2 separate regions of the Homo sapiens genome follow, and region 1 is linked to region 2. Evidence: fine-mapped expression QTL. Tissue or cell type: lung. Region 2 holds a variant in brackets; the other region holds the start of a gene. All regions are shown on one strand. Distances are between the middles of the regions.

The links. PIP is the estimated chance that this variant, and not a neighbour inherited with it, causes the effect.
Region 1: it holds the start of HABP4, and the variant in region 2 is fine-mapped to the expression of HABP4 in lung (TOPMed, PIP 0.97). The same link has a PIP of 0.9 or more in thyroid and whole blood.

What each region holds. Positions count from the first base shown.
Region 1 is chr9:96,448,632-96,451,310 of GRCh38, forward strand. HABP4 (hyaluronan binding protein 4) reads left to right here and starts at 1,538. Exons shown (of 8, transcript NM_014282.4): 1 at 1,538-1,997. The coding sequence starts at 1,649. RefSeq lists an enhancer at 956-1,035 and silencers at 1,316-1,855, 1,866-1,925, 2,006-2,055.
Region 2 is chr9:96,329,001-96,331,679 of GRCh38, forward strand. All of the region lies in intron 9 of SLC35D2 (solute carrier family 35 member D2), which reads right to left. All of the region lies in intron 9 of SLC35D2-HSD17B3 (SLC35D2-HSD17B3 readthrough), which reads right to left. Among named protein-coding and RNA genes, the nearest start is that of HSD17B3, 28 kb to the left of the region's middle. The variant T/C (reference allele first, on the strand shown) is at 1,635.

The sequences.
Region 1 (2,679 bases), 120 kb after region 2:
TCACATCTGTCACCTTACATCATAAGCCTCAAGTAGGGAGGTTCCCAAGTGGGTCCAGTCGGCAGCTCAACCTCATCAAGGATCTAGCCTTTCTCTATCCTGCTCTGCCATCCTCATGGCCACGCTAAGGAACAGCCACCCGAGGCATCATGTCTTCTCATGGAACAAAGACCAGGGAACAGAAGGGGGGGAGATCCCTTCTCAATCCCTTGTTAGGTGCAAGAAAAACTTTCCCAGAATACTTCTCAGATCTGTTCTGCCCGATTTGCCCCACAGCCTATTCCTAAGCCAATTACTGGCAAGGAATTGGAATCAGGTGCAATGAATAATGTATGATTAATCAAGTTTGAGGCTGGAAGGGGCCCTCTTCCCCTGGGGAATATGATGCCTGAACAAAATACAGGCTCTGGAAAAATGTAAGAGGGAAAGAACGGCTGTAGGATAGGCAGCCAAGCGTGTCTCCACCGCTGCCTATGCAAAGATTTCCTGGAGGAAGTCCAGTCCGGCGTTCTCTAAGCTCCAGGCCTCAACTGAATATCTCAAAAGAAAACAAATATCCAAACCTCAACGTGTCCCAGACTGAATTAATGATTCCCGTTAAAGTAGTGTCTTCCAGTGGTAACTAATACTATCATTCAGATGCTGGAGCCAGGAAAATAAGAGTCACCGTATCTTCTTCTCCCTCATCACCACCTCTAGCGCATCACCAAGTCTTTGAATCCATCTACTCTCTTCGCCTCCACCGCCACCATCCTAATCCCAGTCACTATCAACTCTTCCCTGGAGCTTTGCAACAATCATGTTTGGCTTCCCAGCATCCATTTGTATTTCCCTCCAAACTATTAGTTCACAGTGCAGGTAGGGTGGCCTTTTCAAACCCAAATCTGCTCATGCTCAAAACTTGCTTCCCACTGCTCTTAGAATAGAGACCACTTTGAGCTTGAATAGGCTGTGCACATCCCACCTCAAGACTGCTGCACTTGCTGTTCCTCCTCCAACCCCTTGTCACCCCTCTCCCTCGGCTTAACTGTCATTTCCCAATTAGGTCAGATCCCTTTGCTGCAGCCCGTAGAGAGCTCTGCGCCTGTCCTTCAGGGCACTTTTTCTCCATCTACAGACTCAGATCTGTGACAACACGGAGCTAGTATTTCCTACAACATAATGCCTGGCACACGGTAAGTGCGCAATATGTAGCTGTTGCACGGCTAAATGTATACATAAGCTTCAAAGCAGAGTGGCCCATAGCAAATACGGTCGCAGTCCCGGGAGAAAGCACACACAGCCGAGACCCCACCGCTTCGTCGGCGCCGCCTGGACCAGCCAGTAGCTCCGCCCCTGGGCCCCGCCCCTCCCTGCTGAGCGAACGGGGCGGGGCCCAGAGGTCGCGTGACGTGACAGCAGCCGGTCGGTGATTGGGTCTCCAGGCGCGCCGTGTCGGAAAGGGGGCGCACCCGCGCGCGCTGACTGGCTGTCTGGCGCAGCGGGGCGGACGGCGGCGGCGCCGCGGGGGCGGGCGCCGGTAGGGGCCGGACAGGGTAGGGCCCGGAGGGCGGTGGCGGCGGAGCGGGCGGCATGGGTCCTGGCCGCCGGCTTCGCTGAGACGCGCTCGCGTGGGCTGCCCTCCCGGGCCCGCAGTGGTCGCGGCGGCATGAAGGGCGCTCTGGGGAGTCCCGTGGCTGCCGCTGGCGCCGCGATGCAGGAGAGTTTCGGCTGCGTGGTGGCCAACCGCTTCCATCAGCTGCTGGACGACGAGTCGGACCCGTTCGACATCCTGCGCGAGGCCGAGCGCCGGCGCCAGCAGCAGCTGCAGCGCAAGAGGCGCGACGAGGCGGCGGCGGCGGCCGGGGCCGGTCCCCGCGGCGGCAGGAGCCCAGCCGGGGCCTCGGGCCACAGAGCCGGCGCGGGCGGCCGGAGGGAGTCGCAGAAGGAGCGCAAGAGCCTCCCGGCGCCCGTCGCTCAGCGGCCCGATAGCCCCGGGGGCGGCCTGCAGGCGCCGGGTACGCGGGGACAGCGGGGTTAGCGGACCACGGCTCGGCCCGCTGTGAGACTGGGGTCCCGGGGGCCGGTTTCAGGAGGAGGGGCCCGGGAACAGTAGGGAGAGTTGAGGGTCCTGGTGGCCGCCGAAGGTAGGAGGAGAGGGGCAGGGGTCACACCCCTTCCAGCTCTCGCCAGCCTCGTGCGGGGCTCCGGGGGAAACGCTGGCTTGGGGTGGGATAGGGCCCTCGAACCCTGGCACTGAGGCTCTACGGCAAGTTGGACGAAGTTGAGGGAGGTTGTCTGGGTGGCGTGTGGGGGCGAACGGCTGAGGTCGCTACCCCGGGGCTCCCACATCCAGACCTGGCGGGGACCTTCATCTTCCAGCCCAGCCTCTGCAAGATTGAGGTCGGAGCCACCCGAGAGCGCGGTGGGGAGGAGGAGGGCGCCTGGTCCCGGGGCTGGGGGCCTCTGTGATGCCGGAGGCCTGGGCGACCGCGGGGCGGCCTGTGACGTCGGGGCCCGGGCGGGGGTCCCCGGCGCGGTCCGGCCTGGCGCCTTCGCCCCTTCTCCGTCCGGTAGCTTCCAGGAGGCAGCCGGCATCGTATTTCAGTACTTCGTGTGGTGTTGATGGGATGTGCAACTTATAAATAGCTCAAGGCTGCTTTAAGAAAAGCGTTTTTAACCTTTCCAGCAAGAATATTC
Region 2 (2,679 bases):
TCGCTTGAACCCAGGAGGCGGAGGTTGCAGTGAGATGAAATCGCGTCACTGCATTCTAGCCTGGGCAAACAGAGTGAGACTCCATCTCAAAAAAAAAAAAAAAAGACATTATTTATGTCTTTTAAAGGACAGAAATTCTACAAGATTGAATAATTTGGCAGGAGACATTTACATATATACACACACACATATACATATATACTTTTATATATATAAATACACACTTTTTTATATATATACTTTTTTTAGAGACAGGCTCTCCCTCTGTTGCCCAGGCTGGAGTGTAGTGGTGCCATCATAGCTCACTGCAGCCTCAAACTCCTGAGCTCAAGCAATCCTCCTGCCTCACCCTCCTGAGTAGCTGGAACTACAAGAACATGCCACCACATTTGCCTAACTTTTTTCTGTAGAAATGAGTTCTCATATGTTGCCCAGGCTGGTCTCAAACTCCTGGCCTCAAGTGATCCTCCCACTCAGCCTCCCAAACAAAGCTTTGGGGCTACAGGCATGAGCCACTGTGTCTGGCATAGATTTCTTGTATTTCTCACCTGCATTTTCACATCTATGATCTTCAAAACACTCCTCCACTGGTACTTGGAGAGTGGCTGTGGCCCACGGATTTTGTAAGCATACGCTGTCCATTTGCAAGTTTGATAATTGCTCAGCCATTGCAATTAAGCAATGTTCTGCTTTTGCGGCACCAATAATAACTAGCTTTTAAACTTTTATTTTTCACAGCCCTTTTGTGAGAGAACATTTTCACAGATCTTTTCTGTTGTGTTGTTAGGAATACAGTAAGAAGGAATGATATTTGGCTTCCTCAATAAAGGAATCTATATTAGTCAGCGTTCCCCAGAGGAACGGAACCAATAGAACACACAAGTATAGATATATGAGAGGGGATTTATCAGGGGAATTGGCTCCCACAATTATGGAGGCTAAAAAGTCCCAAGACAGGCCATCTGCAAGTTGGAGACCCTGAGATGCCAGTAGCGTGGCTTAGGCCAAGTCCAAAGGCCTGAGAACGAGCGAAGCCTTTGGTGTAACTTGGTGGTCCAAGGCCAAAGGCCTCCTGACCACAGACTGCTGGTGGAAGCCCTAGATTCCCAAGGCCAGTGAGCCAGGAGTTCTGATGTCCAAGGCAGCAGAAGAAAGTCTGTCCCAGATTTCAAAGAGGGATGGATTCGCCTCTGTATTTGATCTCTCCATGCCCATGGCCAATTGGCTGGTGCCTGCCAACCATGAGGGCAAATCCTCCCCACCTGGTCCACTCAGACTCACAGGCCAATCTCCTGTGGAAACCCCCACACATATACACACACACAGACACCTAAAATAAAGCTTCACTGGGTTCCCAGGTATTCCTTAATCCAGTCGAATTGATACCTGAATTTAACTCCACAATTCCCCCTGCTTGTCAATTGGCACCCACAGGCATCGCCTTAAACCATACTTAAGTTTCCGAATGAAGACAGTAACAAAGAAATTTTGTTATTTAGTTGCATCCATCTGATGTGACACAACATGTATCCTGCATACAACAGAAATACACAATCCCTTCCCCAGAATTCAGCTTTCAGGATTTCAACATTTGAGATTCTACTCTTTCAGGATTATAATTTTTTGAAGTTAGA[T/C]CTTTTGGGGGTTATGGCATTCAGGATAGTGTTGTGAAAGGAAAATTAAATCTCAGAACCCCAAACTCACAATGCCAAAGGGAGAAGTTAAGTCTGGAAACTGAGTCACACAAAAACTGCCTTCCATTCTGTTCCTCAATAGATAGCTGCAAAGAGAGAGGGCCACACATCTCCCCAGGTGGCCTCCCTCGCAAATTGCTCACAAGGAAGTTCCTTGCAGTTCCCAAAATCTTCACCCTAAAACAGAGTTCTGCTGAATTTCACCCTGATTTTATTTATTTATTTATTTATTTATTTTTGTCACCCAGGCTAGAGTGCAATGGCACAGCCTCGGCTCACTGCAACCTCCACCTCCCAGGTTCAAGAGATTATCGTGCCTCAGCCTCCCAAGTACCTTGGATTACAGGGGCACACTACCACGCCCCGCTGATTTTTGTATATTTAGTAGAGACAGGGTTTCGCCATGTTGGCCAGGCTGATCTCGAACGCCTGACCTCAAGTGATCTGCCCACCTCGGCCTCCCAAAGTGCTGGGATTACAGGCTTGAGCCACCATGCCCGCATGATGATGTAAATTAATAGCTTATCTTAAACAGGTATGGACAAAGACAGAACTAGAAATCATCCCTCTGCCCACTCCAAGACAAATGCGTGATTGCCTCCTCCTTCTCCTGTATGCTTGCTTTTATCTTATGTAAAATGCAGATTTGCTGAAAGCCAGACAAATGAATAATTGTTCCTCGACCCCTCCTTTCACATGTAACACGTGGATTCAGTGAGCACTAATCAAAGTCTTGCAAGAATGTAGGACTCACTCACCTTACAAGAATGTAACCACTCACTTCCTGACATACCCTCCCTCCCTTTTTTTTTCTTTCCCTCTGCCCCTCCTGCCACCCTTTCCCCTTTAAATACTGAAGTCTTCAAAATTCTCCTTGGAAAAAGCACAGGCCACAGATCCTACTGTGATTTGTGTTTCTTTTTCCCCAAGTGCATCCTCAACCTTGGAAAAATGAACCTCTAAATAGATTGAGACCTGTCTCACA